Linked DNA regions of Homo sapiens. The protein of the gene in region 2 purifies or fractionates together with the protein of the main gene of each other region. This does not show direct contact. Each region holds a gene or a part of one and is shown on either strand. Other genes may lie near its edges. The genes, in order: DAGLB, TSPAN5, GDPD1, LCLAT1, ZDHHC9, ATP2B3 and ALG11.

Region 1 (4,610 bases), on a different chromosome or scaffold from region 2:
CCCCGTGAGGGGGTTTCTGTAGATGTAGAGGGGCCACCCATAGGCCGCTGCTGCAAACTGCATGTAATGATGGCAGTTTTCTAATTCTGCATCCAGATCAGCTTCCTACAAGAGAAGGACAAAAACTACTGTTTATTAAGGGAACTCCTGACACAGAGGATCAACACACTGAGACCTGAAACCTGAACTCATTCCTGACTCTTCCTGCTCCTTCGTTGAATAGAACTCTCAGACGCCCACAGGCAAAACTGCTCCTTCAATAAGGATGACATGGACTCCTCATTTTTTTTTTTTTTTAGAGTCTCGCTCTGTCACCAGGCTGGAGTGCAGTGGCACAATGTCAGCTCACTGCTACCTCCGCCTCCCAGGTTCAAGCAATTCCCCTGCCTCAGCCTCTCAAGTCGTTGAGACTACAGGCACCCGCCACCACACCCGGCTAATTTTTGTATTTTTAGTAGAGACGGGGTTTCACCATGTTGGCCAGGCTGGTCTCGAACTCCCGACCTCAGGTGATCAACCTGCCTTGGCCTCCCAAAGTGCTGGGAAGCCAGGCGTGAGCCACCACGCCCAGCCTGACTCCTCATTTTATAGGAACACAGCAAGCACGGGGAAGTTAACAGTAAAAAACACTCCAATGACTTCTCTGCTGTTTTTGCTGAAATGAGCCGGCGCTTCCTATCTAGATGCCTGAAACTAGTACATTTCCATGCCACTGCCACACACGAGCTGTCAAGAACTGAGTGGCTTAACCCGGAGCAGCGAAGATACATACCGTCTACGTGCAATTTTCTTTCTCAAAAACATAACAACCTGTGGCAGGAAAATTATCACCAAGCAAAGCTGAACTGCTTCTGCCCCCAGCCCCAGAGAAGAAAGCAAACACACCCAGGGAGAATCGCAGTCCCCATCCCAGGAGGAATTGTTCTAATGCATAGAATTGAACAGCAAATTTCCTAAAACATAAGCCTTCAAAGATATGATAAATGTGGCCGGATGCAGTGGCTCACGCCTGTAATCCCAGCACTTTGGGGGGCCAAGGCCGGCAAATCACTTGAGGCTAAGAGTTTGAGAACAGCCTGGCCAACACGGTGAAACCCCGTCTCTGCTAAAAATACAAAAATTAGCTGGGCATGGTGGTGCACGCCTGTAGTCCCAGCTACTGTGGAGGCTGAGGCAGGAGAATTGCTTGAAGTCAGGAGACAGAGGGTGCAGTGAGCCAAGATCATGCCATTGCACTCCAGCCTGGGTGACAGAGACTCTGTCTCAAAAAATAAAATAAAAAATAAAGATATGATGGATGATAAAGTGGCCAGGAATGGGTTCCCACTACCTGAACTCCAGTTGATAACGAAGATGCCTCACCTGACAGGTGATGCAATACAACCAGTGGAAGCCGCCAATCAGATTCCAACCCTGCTGCTAATGAAACTGCTGTAGGGTCCTAGGCTTAGTACCTGGGTGACAAAATAATCTGTACAACAAACCTTCGTGACATGAGTTTACCGGTGTAACAACCCTGCTCATGTACCCCTGAACCTAAAATAAAAGTTAAAAAAATGAAAAATAGGCCCGGTGTGGTGGCTCATGCCTGTAATCCCAGCACTCTGGGAAGCCGAGGCAGGCAGATTACCTGAGGTCATGAGTTTGAGACCAGCCTGGCCAACATGGCAAAACCCCATCTCTACTAAAAATACAAAAAATTAGCTGAGTGTGATGGTATGCGCCTGTAATCCCAGCTACTCAGGAGGCTGAGGCAGGAGAATCACCCGGGAGGTGGAAGTTGTGGTGAGCCAATTGTGTCATTGCACTCCAGCCCGAGCAACAAGAGCAAAACTCCATCTCATAAAAAGAAAAAGAAAAAAAGGGGAGGGGAGGCTGGGCACGGTGGCTCACGCCTGTAATCCCAGCACTTTGGGAGGCTGAGGTGGGCAGATCATGAGGTGAAGAGATGGAGACCATCCTGGCTAACACGGTGAAACCCCGTCTCTACTAAAAATAAGAAAAAAAATTAGCCAGGTGTGGTGGCAGGCGCCTGTAGTCCCAGCTACTCAGGAGGCTGGGGCAGGAGAATGGTGTGAACCTGGGAGGCAGAACTTGCAGTAAGCCGCGATTGTGCCACTGCACTCCAGCCTGGGCGACAGAGCGAGACTCCGTCTTAAAAAAAAAAAAAAAAAAGGTGGGAGAGGGGAGGGAAGGGGAGGAGGGGGAGGGGAGGGAGGGGAAAGGGGAATGAAGGAAGGGAGGAAGAAATTGCTATAGGTTAGCTGTATGATTCTGAAGACCCACCAAAAGGTGTAAGTGTCAGAACTGGACACTCCATGAAGCCAGGCTCACCTGGGAGCTCCCTGGGGCATGGCAGACCACCTGGGCAGGCTCTTGGTTGTTCCTGATATTGTCCTGTTGCTGATGAAGCAGGGCGAGGCCCGCCGCAATGTCGCTGGGCACCAGATCTGTGTCCTGGGTGGGAAACCACAATGGCCTGTCATAAAACCCAGCAGGCACCACCCCCGGGTTCCCTAAAATCCAGTCTTCTATAGTTGATAGGCATTCACGCACACACAGACATTTCTAGACACAGAGGTATGTTAAAAAGACTGCTCCTGGCAGGAGTGCTTCTCTATGTGACCTGAATATGTTTTCACATCCTGCCCTCAGACAAGTCCACTGGAGAATATAAAAATGCTATTCGTCTGTCTTAAAATTTCACTTCATGTGACTCAACTATTTTTAATCTACTTCAAATATTTTGTAAAGTGGAGAAATCAATGGATAAATTGTCCGTTTTTGTAGCAATGCACCATTTTAGCCCACGTTTATACTCTCATTTCTCAAGATGCTGGGAAGGTTTTGTTGAAACACAGTGGATGGTAGAGATTTATGAGACTAAACTCATACTCACAGGGTATGGCAAGCCTCATAAAGGACCCCAAGCTGGGAAAGCAACAGAGAGTGAGTCTTCTTAGGCCTGACATGTCCTTTTTCTCCAGGAAATGGAGGAATTAGGAATTCTCAATCACCTCCGGGTACTTGTAGCCCGTAAGAATGGACAATATACTGCCAGGTGCGATGACTCACGCCTGTAATCCCAGCACTTTGGGAGGCCGAGGTGGGCGGATCACCTGAGGTCAGAAGTTCGAGACCAGCCTGGCCAACATGGTGAAACCCTGTCTCTACTATAAATACAAAAATTAGCTGGGCGTGGTGGCAGGTGCCTGTCATCCCAGCTATTGTAGTACTCTAGCTACTCAGTACGCTGAGGCAGGAGAATCTCTCGAACACAGGAGGTGGAGGTTGTGCCAAGATGGCGCCACTGCACTCCAGCCCGGGTGACAAAACGAGACCTTGTCTCAAAAAAAAAAAAAAAAAGACAATATACTGGCCACTCAGCCACTGAGCCATCAGTTCTGCCTGTGATGTAGATTACGACATCCTCTAGAAATAACCAGCTTCTCTTCTTCCCTCTTCCAGATATCTTAAGACTAGGTTTAAGCACTTCTTTAAGTTACTGAGGGGACACGCTTCCCTCTTCCCTCTACGGAGGCTGCTGCTATGACTTGGTGTCAGGCTCCAGGACCAGCCCTGAATGGTGCCAAGTCGGATAGCACAGAGGTGGGAAGAGAGACTGGCAGGTGTGCAGGATAAGCAGAGAACTCTTCCTCCCTTACCTCATCTCAGTATGGAATTTAACAGCATTTAGCAGAGAATGTCATATAAAAAGATGACACGCTGCATGTGAAAAAAAAAAAACAAGCATTTTCAAATTGCGGAAGAACTCGCTCTAGAATGACGCTCCCTTCTGTGCTGCAATCATCTATTCAAACTGTCTTCCAAAAGTAGCATCGTCGATCATTTCCATCATGATACAAAGTGGTAAGAAGTCACTCACTATCTGATTCCAACCTCGATTCATGCCACTGCCTGTGCTTGGTATCTGCTCAACAGCAGCTGCAAATTATTCTCAAAGGGTACAGCGTCCGTTATGTGGTTCCTTACAGGCTAATCCAGCATTTTGACAGGGTAGTGAGTGGGTGTCAATACGAAGACATGTCCTATTGGGACACAGGGTCTGAGAAGGTGTGGCTCTTGCAGTTAACTGCTCCCTGGAGGGCTCATCACAGACAGAGGGTCTCCGGCCACCCCCCACACACCCAAAGACACCAGGTTCTCAAACGCGGTTTTATGGGAACAGAGGGACCGGCTCCATCAGAAGCATTTACTGAAACAGAAGAAACAGACCAAACCAGATCCCCTCGGCTTACTGAAAAGTAGGTTGAGAAAAGCTCTGCCGTACTCGAAAAAGCAACCCGAGTATGGTCGTCTTTCCCAATGCAACAGCACAAGAGCTTGATTCTGGTTTCCCACACGCTTGTAGCTGCTGTCTTGAGGCCATTAAGTAACTGGCTTGAATCATGACTATCCAGGTGGCTGGGGCCGGCAGAGGAATATGGAGCCATTTTCCCCCCAAGAGGGTCAAAGACAATGATAATGGAAACCACTGTGGCAGCGATGATGATCCAACTGCAAGACAGAGAGAGGAAAAGGCTCGGTGACTGCGGGCCCCAGCCCAGACGCAGATGTCCGGGGTCCCTCCTCCAGGTTCAGTTTCTGAG
Region 2 (4,610 bases):
TATCCTGCTCTCTGCCTCAAAATTACCCCATATTTAAATTTCCTGCTTTATTGTACCATGGTCTCTAGTGATGATCAACAGAAAGGCAACCATATGGTTTTGGTTAAAGTAATTCAGACTAAGATGTTAGTGACTGAAAAGCTGGGGTCAGTAGCTTGGCAGCTTGCTTCTGAAAAGTTACACACCTCTGCTCTCTACAGAGTCACCAACCTGTCTGTGATTGCCAAAAACAGCAGACTCGGTGCTACTCCCATACAATTATGAAGAAGAGATTGCCAACAGCATGGTTTCCTAATTTTCATTTTCACACTGAACTGCTAGACTACATTTGACATACACTGGTGACATTCAAAGGTATAGTTCTGGTAAAATAAAATTGAACATATGGTGGCACCAGCACTGAGAGCTTGGTTCTTTTCCTGATCAGCAGTTTGGCTCTTCATCAGTTAACTGCCTGGGCCTCAGTTTCTCAGCTGTTAAATTGAAGGAGGTGGATGAGTTATAACGTTCTTTCTAGTTCTTACACAGAATGAGTTTCTTGAGTTCCAATATGCTGGAGAAGAAAAATAGAAGAGTTTGGCCACTAATTTATAACAGAAGTAGTATATACCAGGACACGTGATAAATTATAGACATTTTCTGTTAGGGAGACTTGTCTGAAGACTAGTTTTATTACTTTCATTTCTTCCTCAAAGATCCTTTCATAAAAAACAAACAAACAAAAAACAAAAAACAAAAACAAAAAAAAACCAAGGCTGGGCGCGGTGGCTCACGCCTGCGATCCCAGCACTTTGGGAGGCTGAGGTGGACGGATCACAAGTTCAGGAAATCAAGACCATCCTGGCCAACATGGTGAAACTCTGTCCCTACTGAAATACAAAAAACTAGCCAGGTGTGTTGGCGGGTGCCTGTAGTCCCAGCTACTCGGGAGGCTGAGGCAGGGGAATCACTTGAACCCGGGAGGTGGAGATTGCAGTGAGGCAAGATCACACCACTGTACTCCAGCCTGGCAACAGAGCAAGACTCCGTCTCAAAAAAAACAAAACAAAGCAAAACAAAAAACCTTTCACTAATTTCTTCTTGGCTTGTTCAGTTCCTGGTATAGTGTCCGTGCTTCTCTCTCCCCACTGTGAATCTCAAATGTAGTCCTGTGAGTCATTAAATATATTTTTATTATTAGAATTACAGCTTCATGTATAAAATCTGAATCCTTTTATATAACAGTTGTAATGACATTCTGAGTAACAAAGTCAACATCTTGTACAGATTCCTTTCTCATTAGTTATCACAGGCTGGTGGGGGAAAACTTGTTTCCTCTGTTATATATTGGAACAATTCAAGACAGAAGGGAATTGATTTTATTGAGGGTGTCACCGTACTGGGACATTTCTCAGAAAACCCTGAGACTGCTTTGGGTTTGGGGGAGGGAGAAGAAAGAGGATTTTGTTTTAAAGTCATTTCTTTGGGGTACCGAACACCACATCCCATCACTCATCATTAATAGATGTTTTGCCCTTTTGGATTCTGGCTTTTAACTGTTTTGGATTCTGGATACTTAACTGTTCCCAGGCAAGTAAATTGATCTCAATATTCTGGTTATTTATTGCTACATAACCTCCAAGCTTAGTTGTTTAAAACACAGTTGTTTATTATTATAGTTCACAGTTCTGTGATTTGGCCAGGCTCATCTGGACAGTTCTCACTTGGGGTCTCATACAGTTGTGGTGAGATGTAGTTGGAGTTGGACTTACCGGAAGGCCCTCTGGGCAGGATGCCTGAGATGGTATACTCATATGACTGGAAGCTGATGCTTGCTGGGAGCTTAGCCAGAGTTGTCACTGGAGCACCTACCTACACGTGGCTTCTTCCTGTCTCTAAGTCTTAAAGAAGCTTCCAGCCAGTTAAGGTTCCACTTAGAACTGGCAGTGCCACTTTTATCTATTCCATTGGTTAGAGCACTCATGCAGACTGCTGAATTTCAAAGGGTGAAGAATTAGAAGCCACCTTTTGATGGAGAAGTGTCAAGGTCACATTGCAGAAAGTCATGTAGGTTGTGGCCATCTTTGAAAAATATAGTCTACTGTATTAAGGCACTGAGCCTTAATTTCTTGTTTATAAAGGAAAGATAACATTAATGGTGTTGTAGTTTTAAAGATTCAGTGAGATAATGTTTTATTCGGCATAATATCTCAATATTTAACAAATAGTGAATATCATTACTGTTGTTGTCTCCAGATTTTATACTGGTTCCATACAGGGCTATAGAACTTCTAGAATGCCTTAGTCTAGTACTTTGGCATCATTACTACTAGGTAATGATAATACCCTTAAGATCTGCCAAGAAGATGAGGCAAATGGATTCAATAGATTTTATAGTGACTTGTTAGGAAAGAACTCAATGGAAACGGTGGAATGATTTGGGAGAACCAAGTCATTTTTCTGTTTTCTTTGCTACAAAGGATTAGAAAAGCCTCAGTTACTTGAGGCCAACTTTCTCTTTTGATATGCTTTCAGATATTACCTTGTGTCTTTAAGTGCAAGTTTATCCAGGGTTGATGGCAGGATCTTGCCTCTAATTTGCTTCCACAGGGCTTAATTCAGAGAGGAGGGAGACTCAGGAAACCTTGGGGCGGTGGGGGAGGGGGGGCATCAAGTAGGAAGCTTTATCTTATGATTCACTATAAATTGCAAGATGTTCTGGAATGATGATACATCAGCAGTTTATAAGTCATAATTTTTGTTTTAATTTGCTAGACATCTGTTAGCTTCGATGGCAACCATATGGGAATCTAAATTGCGTTTTGAATTACAGGGAGATGGTAGGAAGAAAGCTAAATATGGTTATGAAAGTGTCATATGGGAAAAGTGTAAGAAAGGTATAAAGTGGGGAAAGTAATTGAATATAGGCTTGCTTAGTGTGGCCACTCCCTCTGTGGGGCAGTATGAAGGCGCAGAAGCATTCTCACTTGATATACTCCGCAGATTGAAATGAAGCCAAGTGGGGAGAAGTTGGAAAACCAAATCATGTTTCAACCACCATAAACTTGCCAAAATGTTGCACTCATTTAGATGGGTCACTTTGTTTTAATGTCCACAGTAATAGGTAGTCCCTGGCAAAAGGTGAAAGCAATCTGCATTTTTAACAGAACTTTTCACTAATGATGTTTTTCTTGTAAGCACCCCAAAGAGTCTTCCAAGAATATTATATCTTTGTGACAGATGAAGAAATTGGAGTACAGAGATGTGGAGTAACTTTTGAGGTGTTGAAGAGCATGTCAAGGTTCAGTTTCAGAGTGTTAAGTCTCTTCCGTAATGATAGCCCCAGCTTTTTGGGTGGAGACTTATTTTAGAAGATGCTTGTTATTCTAAAATAAAACATCAAGTAAGTCATTTACATCTGTTCATAATCGAAAAGTGATAAAGTTTTTGCATATGCCACAATTAACACCACCCACAAGCACAAAAAAGTTAGGATGAAAATGTTCTTCAAGAATATGGTGGAATAATTGTAGCCTATTGAAAATTCATAAATGAAAATTGGAGTATTGTAGACAGCATTCTTGAATCACATGTTTGTTTCTGTGTGTAATACTGATGACTGTCTTAAAATTTCTAACTTCCAAATAAATCATACTCCACTGGATTATAAGGGCTTCAAGTGTGGGGGCTGTCTCACTTTCATAAGCCCAGTGTCTTGCGCATTGTCTGAAACACAGTAGATGTTTTGATAAACGTTTGGGCCAGGCTTGGGGGCTTACACCTGTAATCCCAACACTTTAGGAGGCTGAGGCTGGAGGATGGCTTGTGCCCAAGAGTTTGAGACCAGCCTGGGTAACATAGTGAGACCCTATCTCTACAAAAAAAAATTAAAAATTAAAAATTAGCTGGGTGTGGTGATGCGTGCCTGTAGTCCCAGCCACTTGGGAGGCTGAGGTGGGAGGATCACTTGAGCCTGGGAGGTTGAGGCTGCAACTGCACTCCAGGGTGACAGAACAAGACCCTGTCTCAAAAAAAAAAAAAAAAAAAAAAAAAAGTATGTTGAAGGAAAGAATTACAAAATCATCAGAAAGTACGTAGGAATCATCTCCTCTAACTTCCTAGTCAGTGAAGCATTCTCCATTGTATCGTGCCTACCTTTCTAAGCATGGATCTGTTTTTGGACCACTTTAATTGTAGAGTTTCATCTGTTCAAACTAGATGTTATCTGTCTCCCCATCATTTCCATCCTCCTAATTTACTGTTCATTTAAAATTTTTATTTGGAAACATTAAACCAATAGGAAAATTGCAAGTAGTATAGAGAACCTGTTTTTATCCTGTTTGAGACAAAGTTGCCAGCATGTTGGCTATCACACAAACAGTTGAGTATGTATTTTCTGTAAACTGGACTATTCTCCTAGATCACCACAGTACAACCATGAAAGCCAGGAAATTACCAATGATACATTAACACCATTTAATCCTTAGATTTCATCCAAGTTTCCCAGTTGCTCCCATAATGTTTTAAAGCAAAAGAATTCAGGTCAGAACCACACTTTGTATTTAGTTACATGTTTTTAGTCTCTTTCAGTCCTTCACTATCATGCTCTTGATACTTTTGACAATTATAAG
Region 3 (4,610 bases), on a different chromosome or scaffold from region 2:
CAGCTGCAGTCAGTGTCTTTCTGGGGCAATAATGCCAAAAGAGTGTTGTTTCATCAGGATTATAGACTTGTTCTTGTGTCAGATTTTCAACAGCAATGACCCTGGCAAACTTGTCAATGTATTTCTTTGCTGCTTCGTGACCAGCAGATGCTAATCACCTTTAATCTTTAAAAATGTAATGCCATGTCTTCTCTTAAATTTCTGCAACTGGGCCGGGCATGGTGGCTCACACCTGTAATGCCAGCACTTTGGGAGGCTGAGGCAGGCGGATCACCTGAGGTCGGGAGTTCAAGACCAGCCTGACGAACATGGAGGAACCCCAGCTCTAATAAAAATACAAAATTAGCCGGGCATGGTGGCGCATGCCTGTAATCCCAGCTACTCGAGAGGCTGAGGCAGGAGAATCGCTTGAACCCGGGAGGCGGAGGTTGCAGTGAGCCAAGATCGCGCCATTGCACTCCAGCCTGGGCAACAAGAGCAAAACTCCATCTAAAAAAAAAAAAAAAAAAAAAAAAAAAAAATTCTACAACTGGCCTGTTCAATATTCACAGTTCCTTTCATTTTAACTTCATCGCTTGAGATCTTCATTTTAGCTTTATGCAGTTTTTCTATTTTTAATTAACTTCTGTTCATCACTTCCACTTTATATATACTACTTCTGATATATATAAAACTTCAACAGTTTATCCTTCTTTTTCTTCAGGTCATATATAGTGGTCATTCTAATACCATATCCTCTGTAAGGTATTTCACACTTACACCAGTGTTCAGTTTCTATAACACCTTGACTTTCTGTGCTATAGATAAACATAAATGTTACCTATTTTTCTCATCACTATAACCCATAGGGGTATCTGTGGTCCTTTTTGATATTTTCACATCTTTATACCAAAGAGCAGAGAATAAGCAAGCAAGCAAGCAAACAAAAACACACAATAAATAATGCATATAGGTCTTGGCACCATGTAGGGCATCATGGGGAATCTGCTGTTGGTGTGATCAGTCTGAACATGTGCCATTTTATTACCCTTTGTGGGCACGCTTGCATAAGGAAACCTGGACATACTCAGAAAAGATATATTGTAACTGAAGGGAGCTGGAAGAGTCTTTTTTCCCTTGGGGACGCTGAATAAGCCGTGTGTTGTTTGCTTTTGTTTTGACTGCAACCTGTCACATGAGGTCAGGTGTGGAATTCGTTATATATATATTTTTCTTTTTAAAAAATTTATGGCTGGGCGTGGTGGCTCATGCCTGTAATCCCAGCACTTTGGGAGGCCGAGGCGGGCGGATAACCTGAGGTCCAGGAGTTCGAGACCCACCTAGCCAACATGGTGAAACCCCCATCTCTACTAAAAATACAAAAATTAGGCCAGGCGCAGTGGCTCACGCCTGTAATTCCAGCACTTTGGGAGGCCGAGGCGGGCAGATCACCTGAGGTCAGGAGTTCGAGACCAGCCTGGCCAACATGGCGAAACCCCATCTCTACTAAAAATACAAAAATTAGCTGGGTATGGTGGCAGGTGCCTGTAATCCCAGTTTACAGGCACTTCTGTGTCAAAAAAAAAAAAAAATTTAGCCAGGCATGGTGACGGGCATCTGTAATCCCAGCTACTCGGAGGCTGAGGCAGGAGAATCACTTGAACCCAGGAGGTAGAGTTTGCAGTGAGCTGAGATTGCACCACTGCACTCCAGCCTGGGCGACAGAGCGAGACTCTGTCTCAAAATAATAATAATAATAATAATAATAATAATAATAATAATAATAATAACAATTTGAGGAAAAAAATTTTTTTCCTCATGTTATTTTTTACTAGGAATTTTCTACTTGTGGAGTTATGTCTGTGCTCAAAAAGTTTCAGATTTTGGAGCATTTCAGGTTTTCAGATTAGGGAAGCTTAACCTGTATTTTGAATTTTTTTTTAGCTGCAACAGTAGAAATCAAAAATCAAAACACAGCCACAGTAACACAGGAGGGTTAAAACAGAACCTAAACTGATTTTTTTTTTTTTTCTGAGACAGGGTCTCACTCTGTTGCCCAGGCTGGAGTGCAGTGGCATGGTCGGAGCTCACTGCAGCCTCAAACTCCTAGCTCAAGCAATCTTCCAGTCTCAGCCTCCCAAGTAGCTAGGACTACAGGCACATGCCACCATGCTCAGCTAATTTTTTTTTTTTTTAGAGACAGGGTCTTACTATGTTGCCCAGGCTGGTCTCAAACTCCTAGACTCAAGCAATCCTCCTGCCTCAGCTTCACAGTGCTGGGATTACAGGCATGAGCCACTGTGCCTGGCTGGCCTAACCATGATTTTTAAGCTATAATATCCACTTATTTGTCAAAGGAAAGACAGAAGAGGATTTGGTACACATAAGTCTCCTCAGACAGAGTTAAACAGTCTCTCCTCTGTATCCCCATAGTCTCTTATGCATAGCTCTACTAAGGCATTTATCATATTATGGCATAAATTATTTACCTGTTTCTCTCCTCCCATTCCCATGAATTGCTTAAAAGAAGTGACTGTGTTTTAATCACCTTGACTGAAGGCAGTATAGTCTAGTGGTTAAGGGTGAGACTCTGGAGTTTTAGGATGCTTGGTCTCCAATCTGTTTAATAATTGTGTGACCTTAGAAAAGCTACCTAAGAAACTTTCATAGAATTGGTATAATCAAATGAGTTAATATTTAAACTGCTGTATTTTATCAATTTTTTTTTTTTTTTTTTTTTTTAGATGGAGTCTTTCTTTGTCACCCAGGCTGAAGTGCAGTGGCACAATCTCGGCTCACTGCAACCTCCACCTCCTGGGTTCAAGCAATTCTCCTGCCTCAGCCTCCTGAGTAGCTGAAACTACAGGCGTGCGCCACCACACCAGGCTAATTCTTTTGTATTTTTAGTAGAGACGGGGTTTCACTGTGTAGGCCAGGCTGGTCTCAAACTCCTGAGCTCAAGCAATCCTCCCACCTCGGCCTCCCAAAGTGCTGTGATTACAGGCGTAAGCCACTGTGCCCAGCCATTCAATTCTAAAATGATAACTTTTCATTTCTTAACATCTCTGAAGTTAAGATGTATTTTACAATTAATGCTGTATAATGAACAGTTTAATTGGCAAGATTTTCTCTCTTATTTTAAATCAACTTTTATAGAGGTCTCTTTCTTAACAGTATGTAAAAATTGTGTATTTATAACCAATGGCATTAGATTCAATGAAATACTAGAGTAAACATTCCATGAAAGTAAAGGATTATTGCTATTATTAGAATTATTATTACTATTGCCATTATCATAGTAACTGGTAAAGAATAGGTACTTGGTAAATGTCCATTAACTGCAATAATAAATAATATTGTAATTTTTAAAAAAGGACACAGATTTTGATGTGAACATATTGAATTATAAAATATTGTCTAATATTATATACTATGTAAAAAGAGTTAACTAACTTTATGCATGCTACCCAAAAGTTTTAAATTTTTTTTTTTTTTAGTTGGAATCTTGCTCCGTCGCTCAGGCTGGAGTGCAGTGGTGCAATCTCAGCTCACTGCAACCTCCACCTCCTGGGTTCAAGTGATTCTCCTGCCTCAGCCTCCCGAGTAGCTAGGACTGTAAGCACATGCCACTATACCCAGATAATTTTTGTATTTTTAGTAGAGACGGGGTTTCAACATGTTGGCCAGGCTGGTCTCAAACTCCTGACCTCAGGTGATCCTCGGCCTCCCAAAGTGCTGGGATTACAGGTGTGTGCCACCATCACCAGCTTAAAATGTTTTAAAACTAAAACATTTCAGTGTTACCAAATAATTGATGAAATATACAGAAAAATACTTTGGAAATAATTTTCCATACACTTTGGAAAAACAGTCAATTTCTTCTTAATAGAAAGAGACAATTCAATAAACTCTCAATAAAAAGGTACTGCTCAGGGTGGGCGCGGTGGTTCATGCCTGTAATCCCCACACATTGGGAGGCCGAGGTAGGTGGATCACCTGAGGTCAGGAGTTCAAGACCAGCCTGGCCAACATGGTGAAACCCCGTCTCTACTAAAAATACAAAAAAAAAAATTAGCTGGGTATGGTGGCAGATGCCTGTAATTCCAACTACTCGGGAGGCTGAGACAGAGAATTGATTGAACCCAGGGGGCGGAAGTTGCAGTGAGCTGAGATCGCGCCACTGCATTCCAGCCTGGGCAACAACATCAAAACTCCATCACACACACACACAAAAGGTACTGCTCAAAGTACCTAAAGGACTTAAGTATTAGCATTAAAATGTTTTATATACAATACCATCTGAACATATTTGTATTAAATTTTTCTTCTTTTATATTGTTAGGTTGTATTTTTATGATGACCTAATTAATAATCAACAGAAATACAAGATATGCAGAAACAAATACATTAGCTTTAATATGCTAAAATTTTATAACTTTAGCAGAGGGAAGATACCCACGTAAAAACAAAAAACTACTAGTTTGATTTTAGGTTCACTTGGTTACTAGAGTTGATGCATGATAGAAAACAGATGCAGTAAATATGAAGGGTATAGGTTTTTTTTTTTAAGTCTCCTTTCAAGGTTAGATAACCCTTTACTGGATGAGGCTAGTTGGCCCTTGTTTTGATCT
Region 4 (4,610 bases), on a different chromosome or scaffold from region 2:
ACCGCTCAACTAATTATAACCCCTACTCCAAAAAGTCCCTTGAAAGTGAAATACCTACATGGAAGACCTCCTGGTAAAAAGGATCATGGCAGAGTCCTACAGGTGTGGATCCACAGCAAAAAATGTCCCTTTTTCTTTTTTTTCTTTTGAGACGGAGTCTCACTCTGTCGCCCAGGCTGGAGTGTAGTGGCGCGATCTCGGCTCACTGCAACCTCTGCCTCCCGGGTTCAAGTGATTCTCCTGCCTCAGCCTCCCGAGTAGCTGGAATTACAGGTGCCCGCCACCACACCCAGCTAATATTTTGTATTTTCAGTAGAGACAGGATTTCACCACGTTGGCCAGGCTGGTCTTGAACTCCTGAACTTGCGACTCGCCCGCCTTGGCCTCCAAAAGTGCTGGGATTACAGGCATGAGCCACCGTGCCCGGCCAAGAGTTAAAAATCTTAAGCCTATAAATTCCAAACCTCAAATCTAAACCTATATATGCAATCTCTAATATATGATACCTATAGATCCCAAACAATCCTTTGCTTTTCATTATGAAAAATAACATAAAAAATCCAAGACTGGGATGGGTGTGGTGGCTCACATATGTAATCCCAGCACTTTGGGAGGCTAAGGCAGGAAGATCGCTTGAAGCCAGGAGTTTGAAACTAGCCTAGGCAACATAGCAAGACTCCAGCTCTACAAAAAATTTTTAAAGGCCAGGCATTGTGGAACATGCCCAGAGCCTTAGCTACGCAGGAGGCTGAGGCAGAAGGATTACTCGAGTCCAGGAATTTCAGGTTACAGTGAGATCTGACTGCACCACTACACTCCAGCTGGGCAAGAGAATGTAGTCTCCAAAAAAGCAACAACAACAACAATCAAGACCATGTGTCCAGGAACATCTCATATAACATGACATCCTCTCCCTTGACATCCAGCATTCTACCAGAATATGCCTGAAAGTTATAAATAACCTTTGGGCAGCCAAGATCTCAAGTCCACATTAATTGGTTGTAATACCAGATGAGACATATCCAGTCAACCTTATTTACAGCTCCTGCAAAGGCAGAAAAACAAATATACTACACAGAAATAAAGCTGTAATATCTATACAGAACTCCAGAATTCAATTAATCCAGACTAAAAGACTGGGAAAAAAGACACTATTCTCACATTTCTCATGTTTATTTTATTGCTAGTATAGGAGATAATAGTGTCAACAGTAATAAATCTAACAAAATTTTATAATGCATTGTTTCTTATATTGAAGAGTAACAATTCTGATAATTTTTACCTAATTGGTCAAAGATTTCTCTGTGTATTATTTAACAGAAATATGGAAGCATTTTCCAAGGATCTTTTATATACCACTACTTACTATGTCCAAGTGTTCCATTGTGTATAAAAACACAAAGATGAGAGTGGTTCCTCTCAAGATCACAGAGAAAGTTTTACCATCATGCCCGCTGCTCTCACTCTCATTTATCATTCTGATGGATCTTTACTTAGTCTGAGGTAATAACAACTCATCTCCATGTCTGCTTTTGCTTTTCAGGCTCAGATTAGGTCTGGTTCTCCAAATCCCTAGCTACTTGAGGCTTTGCAATCCCAACTCATTCTTCAAAACACTGAGCACCCACTTTGTTAAGAGCAACAGTGTAGACAAAAATCACATTCAGCAATCTATGTTTATTCAACACCTGTTTTGTGCTAGGACTGGAATGGTATCAGAAGGCTGTGGAAGAAACTTGTGCCCTGGGTAGACAGTTAGAAAATGACCTCTAAATTCCTAAGGCATGATTTATGGTGAAAGGACAGAACTCCAGTAATTTTCATAATCCCAGGTAGTAATCAGACTGTCGGTTAGTTAGAATTTTGAGAAGCAAAAACTGCTCTGAGCACATGCTGAGTTTGACCCTTACAATATTCATTATGTTGAACAGAATGGTCCAAAAATAAAAGGAACAAAGGCATGCACTCCGAATTATAGAAACATTCAAAGAAAGACTGAATGGTCACCCTGCAGATAGTTCTAGAACGGATTCTTGCCCACAGAGTTAGGTTAGACAAAGTGACCTCTAAGTCTCATCTAAGATTCTAAAACATTTCACTGCTATGCCTCTTTTAGCACAGAAATGTGCTCCTTAAAAATAGTAAGACAAGAAAAATCTTGCCAACAAAATCATTTTAATCCACAAGAGAAACTTAATGAAAGAGAAGATCATTTTGTGACTATTTTTGTGAAGCAATAATTAGTTTAAGTGCATTTATCCTAATTTATTTTTAGTGGAAAATTATTTTTAACTGTTTGGGATTGCTTAAAATAAAGTACATCAATAAGGGATAGAAGAAAAGCTTTTAGATTAAATTCACTCTGAATTTAAAAAGAATATATTTTATTATTGCTTAAAAACTCCTTTAGCTCCTTGTACGAGTATGAGATAAAAGGTGATAAAAGACACCCTTGATGGTTCTTCTCTGTTTCCTTCAACAGAGATGTTCACTATCTCAAAACTAGAATATCAATTTTTCTGTAACCTAGCTATAAGGAATTCAACATCTATACATTTCTTAACTAAAAAAACTTTCTCTGTCTGATATGCTGTAACTAGTAAACTAAACAGCTGAGTGACAGCAGTTTTCCAAATGTATACTAATTTTTTACTAGTACTGTGGTAGTTAAATCTTACCCATGTGTTAAACTGTCCAAACAGCTAATAAGACAAAAGTTAGGAATAGGTGAAATTATCTTTGAAAATCTCATAGGATGGTGCATCTCAAAAGATCACACTATCAGTAAGTCCAGCTCAGCCAATCTTCTCCCAAAATTGTACTATATTGATATTACCCTACCTGACCATCAGACAAAGTGATTGGTTTGTATATTGTTTAAAAATATCTATCTTTAAACACAAGAATCACACTCAGCAGAGAACCACTCATATTTCCTATTTCATCTCACATGAAGCAGAAAAAAATTCATTCTCTTCTCTGCCCACTCTTCCCTTACCTTAGTGCATGTAATTGAAACTGTACAAATACTGTAGGTGTATAATGTAATTCTGCAGTAATAGTAATGCTACTAGCAGTAATAATAGCAGAAATAGCTATTGCAGAATTTGTTTGGTAACTTGTCCTATAAATACCAGCATTTCTTCCAGATTAAGAATTTTAACTGTGCACATGGCTGCCCAGAAAAAAAAGACATTTCCCAGATTCTATTACAGCTTTTAGCTGCTCTTACCAATAGAGTAAGCAAAAGTGATATGTGCAACTTGCTATGTACTACACACGTGAGTCACTGGTATAGAAAGAAAGCATTTGCTCTGGACTTCCTCCAGAGTGGGGCAAAGAAGTGGCAGTGACCCAGTCTTGACCAAATACAAGAGGACATTATACCAGGCTGGAGGCCAAGCTAGGTGGATTAACAGGATAGAAGACATCTGAACCCTTTGATGACATCAGGGACCGTAGGGACCTTGCCAGCCTGGACCTGTAAGTCAATATAGTTCTACTGTATTGGAGCCACTATATTTTGAATTTTCTCCAAAACACCAGTTTAGCCTAAAATTAATATAAAAGCAAAACTAAAACTAAAACTAAAATTAATATAATACCAAATATTTACCGGGTACTTACCAAATGGCAAGCATTATACTAAAAAGGCTATATATTTATTACCTCATTTAGTCATTACAATGACTCTCTGATGTAAGTAGGTAGTATTAAGACTCCTTTTTATAGAGATGAAGAAACAAAAGCTTACAATGAGGCTAAGGAGCTTAGCCAAGTTCAAATGACTAGAAAGTGGGAAGGCCAATAGTGAAACCAAATATCTGTCTGCAATGTCTGTGAAAATAAGCACTCTGCTTATGCTCGCTCTCCAAAAATTAGAGTGACTGGACACTGTAAAGCATTACAACTGTAGTAATTTTTACCAATTCTCAGAACTCTCAAGGTTTTGGCAGAAAGATTCAACAAAAATGTGTGGTTCATAATTAAAGGATTATATACTATAGAAAACTGATGACATTTAGAAAATGGAGTACAGTAACAATACATGACTGTTACAAAAAATCTTTTACCTCTGAATGTTTGCTTTACAATCAGATATACAATTCTGAATCCAGAATAGATCTCAAAGATCATTTACTCCAATTTCTTTATTTTACAGATGATGAAACAAACACTAAAAATAGTTACATAAATGACATGAAAACAGTCAAATGTTTCAATAGGAAATGTCTCTGATTTTATGATGACAGCAAAATTACTTAACATACAGTTTGTAGATGACGTTTTAGAAGTATCTACTTGTGATGATTAATATTACATAAACTGAACAGTATTCTTATTTTACTTAATATATGTATATAGAGAAATACCCACCTTGTAAATAGAGAGTGATAGTGGTTAAGCAGCAACAAAAAATGAGTATTTTATGGCAAATGGTATGTTTAGGGTTGCAATGAAACACTGGGCTTCATATCTTTAAAGCTAATTTAAAAATGTAACTCTAAAAATTAATAGTCTTAGAAGTCAACTTCTGTCCTCTAAAAAAAGAAAAAGACTTTTAGTCACATGAAAGCCAGAAAAGAAATTAGTCAAGCTCTGTAAATCTA
Region 5 (4,610 bases), on a different chromosome or scaffold from region 2:
GGAGCATAAGCTTGGGAGACCCAAAGAGCCTAGATGCCACTGGGTAACACACACACTAGCTCGCAAGAATCTGGAATATGCTGGCCTAGTATTTGGTACTATGTACACTTTACTAAAGCATGTGTGTTTGAATATCTTCAGGATTCCATAGCCAAAGGGTAACAATGAACAATGAGATAAAATGTCGAAATTAGAAGAAAAAGCCCTGAGTCAGTATAGAGACGTTGGCTGGTCAACTCATCTTGATAAAGGAAACTCACTTCTGTGGGCCTGGTTTCCTCACCCCACACAAGGAGGGAGATAGTCTCCAAAGCCCTTTCCAGATCTACCATCCTATGATTCTGTGGGTCAAGATTGTTAAATTTTAAGTACATCTAGAATGTTTTAATTCAGCAACACTTATTGGCCATCTACTCTATGTAAGGCATGGTAGAGAGCACTGTGGGGGCTACACAGCCATTGAACATAGTCTCTGACCTTGAAAGAGACTAGCTGCGGGGGACAACAACAGTGAGAAGTGTAATCACCATATAGCTCCAAACTATAAGAAATGTCATGTGATTATCTGTTGAATGAGCGGTGTGTACAATTAGCCCAATGAATGCAGAAATTACTGGAAAGTTTTCATGAAGAAAGACTCAAGAAAGAATTTGAAAGAGGGGTAGAATTTGGATAGGCTAGAAAAGTATTGTTTGTATTGATTACTATTGATTACTAAGCAGTGTTACAAAGCTGTTTTCAGTTCATCCAATTCAATGACTCTTCTGCCAATATATACATCAAAAGCTCTAATGGGGACCAACCTGACAGAACCTGGTCTGACAGTGCCTTGATAAGATTTCCTTCATATACAGAGGACACAGTGAGACCATAAGCACTGATTATAGCAGCAAACTGCTTCTGCTTCAGGGGTCAAGAGTCTCATAGTCATTCTTGCCACAAGAGAAGTCTGAGGACCTTGATCCCACTAGTGGCCAGGTCAGAAAGCTAAAAGAGAAAGCTGGAAGCCAATTCCAGGAGACAGTGCACTTGTTCCTTTCTCCAGGATCACACTTTATCAGGAAGTTGAATTTGACTGAATACCACGATAGCCTTTCAGTAGCTGGATGTCTCCTAGGTTGTCAGTGGCATTCTGCTACAGTGTCCTAACACTTCAGGCCAAGCTGGTAGCTATGTGTTCATCGCACAAGCTGGATAGAGCTTAAGCAGAAAGAACTGAAAATTGTTCATGTGCTCAAAGCTGAAACTAGCAATACACACTCACATTTCTTAAATACCTCACCCTAAGAATTAATTAGAAAATCCTTTTTCTTTAAGCATTATACCATTTTTCACTCTGCTTTTAAACTTAAATACGTTTACCATGAATACAATTATATTTAAATATAGCAACCTACTGGTAATCTATAATCTCCTTTTGTGTGTATTTGAGTCTTCCAGACAGACACAGAGTTATACAGAATTTCAGGTTCTTGGAGTTGCAAGAGGCTTAGTGAATATTTGGCCAAATTTCTACTCGGTGACAGCGGCCCGAGAGAGACCCCCCGGCTTCTTCAGAAACACCTCTAACAGGCCGGGCGCAGTGGCTCATGCCTGTAATCCCAGCACTTGGGGAGGCTGAGGCAGGTGGATAACTTGAGGTCAGGAGTTCGAGACAAGCCTGGCCAACATGGTGAAACCCTGTCTCTACTGAAAATACAAAAATTATTTGTATTTGGCAGGTGTCTGTAATCCCAGCTACTCGGGAGGCTGAGGCAGGAGAAGTGCTTGAACCCGGGAGGCAGAGGTTGCAAAAGCAGAGATCATGCCACTGCACTCCAGCCTGGGTGATGGGGCAAGGCCCTGTCTCAAAAAATAAATAAAAAATAAAAAATAATTAAAAAAAAAAAGAAACACTCTAACAATACAGAGCTAACTGGCCCCAGGATGGACAACTTTTTTTGTTTTATGTATTCAATCTACTATGTGTCCACTGAAAATTACAGGTCACTCATTTGAAAAGTCTTCTAGAAGATATGTAAAGGCATAATCCAAAAATAAAAGGACATCTGCCAGCACTGCTAACATTATGCGTTTTTCATTAAGGGGCACCCACATGCCTGACCAGACTTCTCAAGCCATCTGGCTGGCCCAGAGCTGTGCTGCAGGCAGCTATAAATCAACTCACACTTGTTCCTAAGCACCTGCTGCAAGCAGGACCCTGCTACTAAAATGCAGCTCCAGATGTGCCTCAAGATTTGGACTATCTTCCCACAAGGTAAAAATACAGCAGCCAGAGGATGTGGAGTCTCTACTCCTAGACAATGTAAGAATGAAAATAGATCACCATTTGTCTATTCAGACACCCTCACCTGCCTGAAGGCAGGGGGCTAGATCAACTGATTTCCTGAGGCCTCACTAAGTTCTTTTTTTTTTTTTTTTTTAAGACAGAGTCTCACTCTGTCATCCAGGCTAAGATCTCAGCTCACTGCAACCTCCGCCTCCCAGGTGCAAGGGATTCTCCTGCCTCAGCCTTCCGAGTAGCTGGGACTACAGGCGCACAACAGCCACACGGGGCTAATTTTTGTATTTTTAGTAGAGACGGGGGTTTTACCATGTTGGCCAGGCTGGTCTCGAACTCCTGACCTCAAGTGATCTGCCTGCCTCGGCCTCCCCAAGTGCTGGGATTACAGGCATGAGCCACTGCGCTAAGTCCTAATACTAACAAAGCAGCCCACATTCTGCTCCCCAAACCCTGCCCCCACTATGTGGTGGACAGGAAATTATAGATGCCAAAGAAAAAGGCCGACCAGAAGGAGATTTCATTCCTCAGAGGCATGCTGGTGTACCTTGTACAACCTGTCACTGGCTAGGCACAAGGCAGCCACCACCTAAAGTGTCTATGTGTCTGTATATGACAGACACACACACACATACACAAGCACGCACATCCACACATGTACAAAGTATTCATCACCAGGGTCCTCTCCTCTGTGGTCACATTTCCACCTCCCCCCTCCACTCCTCTGCTAACACATTTACTTCCTTCTCCCCTCTTCTTCCCACTACTCCCTCCTCCAGCCCTATCTTCAAAAATATTTAGTCTTTCACACAGACAGCTGGTACTCAAGTAAGTTTTACAAATAACCTCACCCTTCAAAATGCAAGAAATAACCTGGGGCGGGGGGAAGTCATCATGGTAGAAAACTCAACCTGCCTCTGTCAAATGGTAACTTGGCTAATTAGAAGCTTCATCCCACCAGCGGTTTTCTTCAGAGGCCTGCAGGGGCCTCAGTGGAACAGATTCCAGTCAGATTCTTCTGCTGGCTCCCAGATACAAAAGGGGACAAATGGCAATACCTCCAAATTTCAAGTACCCCTGGCCAGTCAAACCAGAGGTTTCCTGGGCCCAGAACTACCAACTAACTCAAAGCCTGGGAACAAGGCTCATCTCTGTTTGGAATAGTTGTAATAAAAATTTAACCTGGAGGTGGGGGTGGGGACAAAAAGAGAAAAAGAGAGGAAGAATGATAAAGAACAGATGTCAGCTTTGCACTTCCAAGAAGAAGCAGGACAGGAATGAGGCAAGGAATACTTGGAGAGAAGGGTGAGGAGAAGGAAAAACAATTTTTAATGCTAGGGGCTTATGCCTGCCTGACTACACATGCTCACTGGTACCACACACAAGCACGTGCGTGCACATATGCACACACACACACTCATTCAGGAAACTCAAACTGGAAAGCAAATAAGAAGCCTTCAGCAACCTGCCTGACTTCACTAAACACTTCACAAAGTCAGCAGTAGCGGCGGCAGCAGCAAAAGGACCTTTAACAAAGAGTTCCTCTGACCTTACTTTCCCAGCCCCGTTATAAACTGGATCTCCCTCCCCCTGCTGTTACTCAAGCCAGCTGCAACCACCCAAAAGTCTGGCAAAGCAGCCCAAAAATCACTCTGGGTGCACTGGGAAAGCCTGAAGCCCTCACAGAAGGACAAAAATGAGCCCCAAGGGACCAGAGCTCATTTTACTTCCCCACTAGGCTGGCCAAGGTGCCCCCTCCTACCTCCCATGGACACACCCCAGCATAAGCCCTCCATTTCCAGGTCACCCATGTACATACACCATAGCACGCTCACCTCAGGTGTGGCTTACAGTCCACACACACACCTCTTGGCTCTCAAAGGCCTCCTCACAGTAATCCCAAAACAATTAGCAATGCTCCCATCCCTAGAGTGTAGAGCATTCTCAGCACACCCAGGAGACACGCCACAGTGCCCTAGAATCCAGCCGGCCACCTCCCCTAGAGACGAGACCTACACAGACTTCAAACAGTGGCTCGAGTACGAGGTATTACACCACAGAAAAAAAATCACTCCAAGGCTGGTACCAGACATACACAGAATATAGAGCTGTTTACGTTGAGTGATTTTGAGGGAAAGAGCAACTCACTTCTAATAAGCACGTATGTGCCACGCACACAACTAGTATGTGGTCCAGCTGAGGCTGGAACTAATCTGTAGGTTCCCAACTCAGTTGGCTTTTCACTGTACCAGCTAGCTGAGAGCTGAGCCTTAAGGAAACAGGACCCAGAATAACAAAATAGGTGAGGATTGCTGAGTAATGTAACAAT
Region 6 (4,610 bases), on a different chromosome or scaffold from region 2:
CTCAAAAGGGACAGGACTTGGGAGGATTCAGGTGGGGAGAGGAGGGAGCAAAGGAGCCGAGGGTCACAGAGGCGGGCATGGTGGAAGAAGCCAGTGGGGCTGTGAGTGCCAGGTGCTGCCACTGCATGGGAGGCTGGTGACGAAGGAAATGATCATAACAGAAGCTGTGTGGACGGAGAGCCTCCTATGGATGTGGATTCACCCACGGAACCCTCACACCCCTCCCCAGAGATAAGTATTCTGTGATCTCCATGCCACCAGGGAAACTGAGGCATGGGAGTAAGGGGGAGTGAAGCTGGGCTGGGCCTTTTGTCCGCAGTGCCTCAGTGTCCCTCAGTGCCCACCAAAAAAGAAGCACAGAAAGAGGGCTGAGGCCCCCACACCAGCAGGGATGGCTCCAGGGAGGAGGTGGTCCTGGCCCTGGCAGTGAGCGCTGCACCTGGCAGAGTTCTGGGAGAGCGCTGTGGGTGGGGCGGCCAGGCAGGGTGCACTTGGTGGTCCAGTCCGCAGAACACAGGAAGGAGCGTGGGCCTGGGCCTTTGGGGAGCCCTGGGCGTCCTGCAGAGGACCTTGCCCTGAGGGCCCTGGGACGGCAGTCATGAGGAGCGAGGTGACTTGTGGACAGAGACGCCAAGGCCAAGGGTGTGGAGTCCGGGAAGGCTGAGTGGGAGTGGGGAAGCCAGGGCATTTGGAGGTGACGCTGTGCACTCTCCCTTACTTTGTTCTAATAGCTTTATTGGGATATAATTCACGCACCACACAGTCCACCCATTTAAAGTAGATAATTCGATGGTTTTTAGTATAGTCACAGAGCTGCACGACCATCACCAGTCTCCAATTCCAGAAAATTTTCATCATCTCTAAGAAAATTTTCATCATCTCTAAGCAACAACAAGAAAATAGATCAACTGGACGTCATCACGATTTAAAACATTTGTGCACCTAAGGACACTATCAAGAGAGTGAAGACAGGCCACAGAATGGGACAGAATGTGTAGAAATCGCATAGCTGATAAGGATCTAGGATCCAGAATACAGAAAAAATGTTACAGCCCAACAATAAAAAGACAAACAACCCAACTCAGCAATGAGCAAAGGGCTAGGACAGACATTTCCCCAAGGAAGACAGGCAAATGGCCAGTCAGCACAGCAAAAGAGGCTCAGCGTTGTTAGTCATCAAGGAAACACAGATCAAAACCACCAGGAGATATTGCCTCACACCCACAAGGATGGCCCCCATCAGCATTGTCACACCAGAAAATAAGTGCTGTTGAAGATGGGGAGAAGGTGGAACCCTCCTATGTCGCTGGTGGGAATGTGAAACGGTGCTGCCCCTGTGGAAAACAGTTTCGTGGACACCACGACCCAGCCATTCCTCTCCTAGATGTCCACGCAAAAGAATTGAAAACATGGGTTCAAACAAAAACTTGTACGTGAATATTCACAGCAGCGTGACTCGTGACAGCCAAAAGGTGGAAACGACTCACGTGCTGGTAGACGTGCTGGTAGACAGATGAAGGGATGGATGGACCAACACAATGCTCTTTAGCATACAATGGATATTACTCAGCCTTAGAAAGAATGGAAGTTCGGGCTGGTGGCAGTGGCTCATTCCTGTAATCCTAGCACTTAGGGAGGCCGGGTGGGTGGATCGCTTGAGCCCAAGACTTCAAGACCACCCTGGGCAACATGAGGAGACCCCAGCTCTACAAAAAATTTGAAAATTCGCTGGGCGTGGTGGCATGCACATGTAATCCCAGCTACGGGGGACACTGACGTAGGAGGATGGCTTGAGGGAAAAAACAAAACAAAACAAAAAAAGAAAGGAAGGTCTAATATCTGAGGGAAACGGAAAAACTTTACACTAAGGAAAGAAGCCAGACACAAAAGGCCACACAGTGTATGAGTCCCTTGATAGGAAATGTCCAGACAGGCAAATCCATACAGACAGGAAGCACATGAGGCTGGGGAGGGGCGTGGGGAGGGCTGCTCATGGGCCTGGGGTTTCTTTCCGGGTTGATGGAGGTGTTTTGGAACTGGGTAGTGGTGACGGTTGCATGATATTGTGAACGTGCTTAATGCCATTCAACTGTACACTGTAAAGTGGTTGAAATGGTGAATTTTACGTTCGGCCTCTTTTACCACGACAATAGAATCAGAAACTCCGTGCGTACCCCGGCACCTCCCTGCTGCTCACTCACTTTTTCAAGAGGATCTCTGAGGCCCCCTTGCTGAAGAGGCGGAAGCCACCGTCGGGCATGCGGATGACTGTGCTCATGGACTTGCGGACCGAGTTGAAGGTGTACACTTTGTAAAGCTTGTCTTCCGGGATCTGCTCGCGCACGGGCTGGAAGTCCCGCTTCAGGTCCAAGACGAAGCCCAGCAGGGCGCACTCCGTCTTATTGCCCACCTGGCGTGGGAGGGCGCCTTCCTTCTCAGGAGGCTGCAAGATGACGAGGGCTAGCAGGCACTGGGGGCCTGAGACCACCCTCCATGCTGCCCCTGGAGCCCCAGCTCTGCCCCCTCGTGGTCACCACATTGTTAGGGTGTGGGCGGCAGGGAGCAGAGGAAGGTCGGCCTTAGCTACAGGCAGTTTCCCAGCCAGAGCCACCTGTGAGGCCAGGGATGGGCAAAAGTTCTCAAGGGGGGGCCTAATGAGCACCTTGCAACAGCTCACCTGGCACCCTGGCCAGGACCCTCCCCTGCTCCTGCCCCCGGCCCTGCCCGCCCGCTCCTGCCCCAGCTCACTAGTATTTTGGTGGTATAGGCACTGTTGATGGAGATGGCATGGACCAGGAGGTCGAGGATCTTAGGGGTCAGGGCGCTGGGGGCCGGAATCTCTTTGTAGTGGGTGTCTCCTAGGTAGGACTGGACCACGGTCATACGGTTGGTGGTGAGCGTGCCCGTCTTGTCGGAGCAGATGGCTGTGGCGTTGCCCATGGTCTCGCAGGCATCCAGGTGGCGCACCAGGTTGTTGTCTTTCATCATTTTCTGCAAAGGGCGAGGGTGTGGGCATTTGGCCCAGGTGCTTGTTGGGGTGGAGGAGTGAGAGATGTCAACACAAACATCGCGTGACTCTGTTCTGCTCAGCTAGCTCCACGTGTGGCACTAAGCCCACTGGGCACCTGGTCAGCCCTGAGCCAATAGCGAGGCTGTAAGGCATCAGCAACCTCATCCAATGGTGGGGGCGGGATGCGCACCCGGGACCTCCCCTGCCCGAGCCCCCTCTCAGTTACCCACCAGCCCTGCAGCTCTCCCACCCCACCACCCCACCACCCCACCACCCCACACCTGGCTCCCCCCACCTCCTCCCACTGCCTCCCAGTGTCCCGGGCCCTCTGCTGATTCTCCGCTTCCCCGCTGCCTCCCAGCCCCTCCGTCCTACTGCCCACATTGTGCAGATGCTGAACCCCTGGGTATCTCACCGCCTGCCTGCTTTCTGGCCCATCTCATGCCGAGGGACCTGAGCTGACAGATCAGCAAAGCTGCCCCCTGGGTCCCTGCTCGGCACCTCCTCTCCTCCCTTGAGCTATCCCAAACGTCCCCAGTTTATACTGCCACCAAGGCGCCCAATGACTTCTTACCCCAGTTTCCGAGTCTGTAAACAGTATCAACTGTAAGTTTTATGATTACCTTGACAGAGTAAGCTAAGGAGATGGTGACAGCAAGAGGCAGGCCCTCTGGGACAGCCACGACCAGCACAGTGACACCAATGATGAAGAACTTCACGAAGTATTGTACATAGACCGGCGTGCACTCTGCCAGCCATGTCCGGCCTTCCACGACAAACGTCTCAATCACAAAGTAGAGGACCAGGATGATGACGGTGATGGCAGACATCACCAGCCCTGCCACAGAGCGGGGAGGAGACGAAAGGGGTTGCCACGGGTGAGGGAAGGAGGGGGACAGGAAGAGGGAAGAAGAGGTATGGACACGGTCTCGGAGGCATTTGTGAAGGCCTTGTAGATTTGCCTTGCGTTTCAGGATAAACAGCCCAGGTTTGGCTCAGCAGGTGAGCTGGGGCCTGTTTGCAAGGGGGCTCTGTGTGGCCTCTTCTGGAGTGCTGCTGGGGTTGGGGAGTGGACTTTGTGGTCTGATGGCAGGAGAAGCACCGCTGGGGAGGACTAGCAAGAGTCAATCCCCCACTGCACCCCAGAAGTTGGGGTACCAGCCCTGCATGCCCCCAGCTGCCTTTTGAGGGTGCCAGGGGCAGAGCCTGGAGCCTTGGGTAGGGGCACCTCATGGGCAGTGGCTCAGTGTGTGACCCGGGCTTTCGTCGAGGGTTTGGGACTTCTGCTCACTAGGGAAGGGCTGCGCCAGGCCCTGATGGCCACTGCCGGCCTGGCCTGTGCCCTTGCCTGCCTGGCCCACACATCACCTGCCACATCCCTTCCCACCTGCTCTACACAGCCTGGGCTCATCTCCAGGAGCCCAGCATCCTCCACGCCCAGTCAATGGCCTGGGCCCACCACCTCCTGCTGTCCCTACCTGCTTTCCCGATCTGCACGGCTAGCTTTGTGAGCTTCCCCTGAAGGACAGACTTCTCCTTTTTGGGTGCGTTGGCTTTCTTCTTCTCCCGCTCCTCCATCTCCCCACCCTCCGCGCTCTTC
Region 7 (3,462 bases), on a different chromosome or scaffold from region 2:
GGTGGTAGAGGCCAAGGTGCTGCCAGCAATCCTTTCCATACTAGGTACTGGTGAAAATTGTTTTTGTTTATGCTGTCAGCACATTTGTGTGGGTCTCTCATTGTCCCTTAACAGTGCCGCATCTCAGCCTGGAAGTCAGCTTTAAGTCATTCAAGAGAACCTCAGGCTGTTTTTCTGACAGTGATGATATGATATACAGATACATCCACAGGGTATCTATTACCAGCATAATGCATTGTAAGATGGCAAGGTGGCATTTTGAAAGAGCGCTGGGCAAGCAGTTAGCACATCTGGGCCTACCTTCAGCTTCTTCATTTACAAACTTCTGACCTTTTGACACTAAAGCTGCTCCTTTATCTTTCTGAGTCTCAGATTCTTCATCTGTAATCTGGAGTTGTTAATTCCAGTCCTTACTACCTTTTAGAGTTGGAATGAGATGGAAAGTAGATGAAACTACTTTGAAAATTACGACAGTTAAGGGCTGGGTGCGGTGTCTCACACCTGTAATCCCAGCACTTTGGGAGGCCGAGATGGGTGGATCATGAGGTCAGCAGTTGAGACCAGCCTGAACAACATGGTGAAACCCTGTCTGTACTAAAAATACAAAAAAATTAGCTGGGCCTGGTGGCAGGCACCTGTAATCCCAGCTACTTGGGAGACTGAGGCAGGAGAATTGCTTGAAACTGGAAGGCAGAGGTTGCAGTGAGCCAAGATTGTGCCACTGCACTCTAGCCTGGGCAATAAGCAAAACTCCATCTCAAAAAAGAAAAAAAGGAAAAAGAAAATTATGAGAGTTACTTAAAGGTAACATCACATACTAAATGTCTTCTATAATCCTATATTTATTAATGCATTACAACTCTGTAGATTGTTAGTTACTAGGCCAGTAGCTAGGAATTGGTATAAATTTAATGCACCTTCTATCCTGAATAACTAGCATGGAAAAGTGAATATATGTGTGAGCAGATATGGCTATAAAGACCTATAGCTTTTGCACTTTATGCATATATAATCAATCCTTTCTAGTTCAGTGAATTGACCCCATCCACAGGCTGATTCATCTTTGTGTTAAGGGGCAAATGAAACGGTATATTATTTCTTTGCAGTCTCCTCTCAGTCATTCATCAATGTGGCCAGCTTATCTACTCCCAATTATGTTGTTGATACATCTCCAAGCCATCTGTCATCAGATCAAAAAGCAGCAAACAGAGGGTCAGTCACAGGATGTTCTGACACACCATTGTAACTTTTTGTTAGAGATGATCCCATTTAGAAAAAGACTGGTAGAAATTGGAGTGAAAGGAACCCTACAGATTAGCCCAGTTCTCTCTTATTTTCAGCTTTACAGACAAGAACAATTTAAATCTAAAGAATTTAGTAGATTCCTTCAGTGTCACAAAGCTGTTTCATGAAAGAATCAAGATTATAACCTGGATATTCTGACTCCTGGCCCAGTGCTTTTTCTTACTTTGTAGCTACACTTTGAAGTAAGATTCAAACTGTTATCCACTCAATTGCCTTATTCCTGAGGATGTAGTGAAGGAAGAAAAAGTTTTCTGGAATTCCGTAAATTATATTTTAAGCTTATTTCTTCAAAATTATTTTCATATATCACAGATATATCATTGGAAGATATAATTTGCATATATGTTCATTATCAGTGTTCCTAATTTGGTATTACATGTATTCTATTTTTTTCTGAATGATAGCATGAAAAGTGTCAAAGTGGTTTGTCCGCTAGCGTCTGTCTGCAGAACTTTCAGGATGACTATTAATTCCTCTCAGATGTCATTTTTGAGTGGTCCAAGCCTGCTGTTTTGAACCCACAGCAGTGGAGATTTGTATTCTTATTTACAGTTGTGTACTATAAAGTGTGTGTTACATAGGTTTTGTGTAATAATTATTTGTAAATATTATTTAGATTTGTATTTAGACATGATTTATATCTAATATAGATACAAAGTCTGTGTCTAAATATTATTTAAAGAAGTGATTTTTCATTCTCTTGGATTCTTTCCAGTGTGGTGCCTTTTATATGCCTCACATAGTCTCCTTGTTCTCCTACTAATATTCCCAAGCTCCATATGCCAATTAAAGAAGAAACAAAAATAAAAGTTTGTCTTGCTTGTGAAACATTAAGAAGAGGCTGTCAGGTTTAATAAACTTTTTAATGAATATTTCAGACATAACAAAAAACTGCAGAGCTTCGTACACTTGATTTAAATAATTCTTGAGGGATTTTATAAGGTCATCTTATAGACAAAATTAAGAGACACCAGTGTGGTTATCAATGCTTTCAGAATACTTGTGTTTATGTAAATATACCCCAGAGTCCAAAACTCTGATATATTCATATATATTCACAATGAGAGGATGTCTGTGCCAAATCTGTCAATCAGTACAATAGAAAAGTTAATTATATAACTACAACACGAAACACAAATTTTTAGAAGCAAATTATGTCCTGTAATTTACCCCCCTCCCCGCTGCTCCTCTGCTAACTCATTTTCCTCTTTTCCCACTCTAAATGTAAGGCAACCCTTGGCTTTGGAGAAGCATCTGTTCCAATATTCTGGTGCTATGTGCTCAGTTGTACTATATGCAAATGTTACTAGACACAGAGGAGGTCAAAGTGTTGATACACTTATTGCTACCATTTACAGAATGATCAATTTGATAGCTATCATACATGGCTAGCAAGACACTGATTTTTCTAATAAAAAAATTTTTAATGCATACAGGTCTGGTGAACAGTTTCAATTTAACGGATGAGGCCAAGGCTAAAGCCAGAGTAAAGTAATCAGAGCCATGCCTCAGGAACACGATTTAGCTAATAGTGTGTGTAAAATGGGTAAGGTCTAGAATTAGGGACTAAAATCAGCTGAAAGTGTTGCAGATATGTATACTTATCACAGTGAATACTTCCAGTTTACAGCAAAGAATTCAAAATTGTTGAGTAAAGCTTGGTGACTATTACCTAAAATAGACTAGACTTTAGCCAAGCATCTTTTATCATGGGAACAAACCCGATAACCTGACATGCTTTTTTTTTTTTTTTTTTTTTTTGAGACAGGGTCTTTCTTACTCTGTCACTCAAGGTGGAGTGCAGTGATGTGATCACGGATTATGGCTCACTGTAGCCTCAACCTCCCAGGCTGAAACTAAAGTGATCCTCCCGCCTCAGCCTCCTGAAGAGCTGGGACCAGAGGTGCACACCAACACACCAGCTAATTCTTTTTTTTTTTTTTTTTTTTCTGAGGGGTGGATAGAGATGGGTGTTTCCCTATGTTGCCCAGGCTGGTCTCAAACTCCTGGGCTCAAGCGATCCTCCTGCCTCAGCCTCTCAAAGTGTTGGGATTACAGGCATGCGCCACCACACCTGGCGTGTTCATTTACCATCCTTAAACATTCTTTTTTTTCTTTTTTTTTTTTTTTTTTGCCCTTAATTGACTTGATCTTTGG

What was found.
Region 1: the proteins of TSPAN5 (region 2) and DAGLB purify together in Homo sapiens (affinity purification with mass spectrometry; 3 studies listed by BioGRID and IntAct, with this or other methods). This does not show direct contact.
Region 3: the proteins of TSPAN5 (region 2) and GDPD1 purify together in Homo sapiens (affinity purification with mass spectrometry; 3 studies listed by BioGRID and IntAct, with this or other methods). This does not show direct contact.
Region 4: the proteins of TSPAN5 (region 2) and LCLAT1 purify together in Homo sapiens (affinity purification with mass spectrometry; 3 studies listed by BioGRID and IntAct, with this or other methods). This does not show direct contact.
Region 5: the proteins of TSPAN5 (region 2) and ZDHHC9 purify together in Homo sapiens (affinity purification with mass spectrometry; 3 studies listed by BioGRID and IntAct, with this or other methods). This does not show direct contact.
Region 6: the proteins of TSPAN5 (region 2) and ATP2B3 purify together in Homo sapiens (affinity purification with mass spectrometry; 3 studies listed by BioGRID and IntAct, with this or other methods). This does not show direct contact.
Region 7: the proteins of TSPAN5 (region 2) and ALG11 purify together in Homo sapiens (affinity purification with mass spectrometry; 3 studies listed by BioGRID and IntAct, with this or other methods). This does not show direct contact.

The regions. Positions count from the first base shown.
Region 1 is NC_000007.14:6,430,503-6,435,112, forward strand, and holds part of DAGLB (diacylglycerol lipase-beta), read right to left. Parts: intron 4,519-4,610; coding exon 4,260-4,518; intron 2,458-4,259; coding exon 2,335-2,457; intron 106-2,334; coding exon 1-105.
Region 2 is NC_000004.12:98,651,288-98,655,897, reverse strand, and holds part of TSPAN5 (tetraspanin-5), read left to right. Parts: intron 1-4,610. UniProt on the Homo sapiens protein: Part of TspanC8 subgroup, composed of 6 members that interact with the transmembrane metalloprotease ADAM10.
Region 3 is NC_000017.11:59,226,282-59,230,891, reverse strand, and holds part of GDPD1 (lysophospholipase D GDPD1), read right to left. Parts: intron 1-4,610. UniProt on the Homo sapiens protein: Hydrolyzes lysoglycerophospholipids to produce lysophosphatidic acid (LPA) and the corresponding amines. Shows a preference for 1-O-alkyl-sn-glycero-3-phosphocholine (lyso-PAF), lysophosphatidylethanolamine (lyso-PE) and lysophosphatidylcholine (lyso-PC).
Region 4 is NC_000002.12:30,526,803-30,531,412, reverse strand, and holds part of LCLAT1 (lysocardiolipin acyltransferase 1), read right to left. Parts: intron 1-4,610. UniProt on the Homo sapiens protein: Exhibits acyl-CoA:lysocardiolipin acyltransferase (ALCAT) activity; catalyzes the reacylation of lyso-cardiolipin to cardiolipin (CL), a key step in CL remodeling.
Region 5 is NC_000023.11:129,836,819-129,841,428, forward strand, and holds part of ZDHHC9 (palmitoyltransferase ZDHHC9), read right to left. Parts: intron 1-4,610. UniProt on the Homo sapiens protein: Palmitoyltransferase that catalyzes the addition of palmitate onto various protein substrates, such as ADRB2, GSDMD, HRAS, NRAS and CGAS. The ZDHHC9-GOLGA7 complex is a palmitoyltransferase specific for HRAS and NRAS.
Region 6 is NC_000023.11:153,547,878-153,552,487, reverse strand, and holds part of ATP2B3 (plasma membrane calcium-transporting ATPase 3), read right to left. Parts: coding exon 4,489-4,610; intron 3,849-4,488; coding exon 3,634-3,848; intron 2,992-3,633; coding exon 2,749-2,991; intron 2,444-2,748; coding exon 2,202-2,443; intron 1-2,201. UniProt on the Homo sapiens protein: ATP-driven Ca(2+) ion pump involved in the maintenance of basal intracellular Ca(2+) levels at the presynaptic terminals. Uses ATP as an energy source to transport cytosolic Ca(2+) ions across the plasma membrane to the extracellular compartment.
Region 7 is NC_000013.11:52,031,462-52,034,923, forward strand, and holds the end of ALG11 (GDP-Man:Man(3)GlcNAc(2)-PP-Dol alpha-1,2-mannosyltransferase), read left to right. Parts: 3' UTR 1-2,139; downstream 2,140-3,462. UniProt on the Homo sapiens protein: GDP-Man:Man(3)GlcNAc(2)-PP-Dol alpha-1,2-mannosyltransferase that operates in the biosynthetic pathway of dolichol-linked oligosaccharides, the glycan precursors employed in protein asparagine (N)-glycosylation.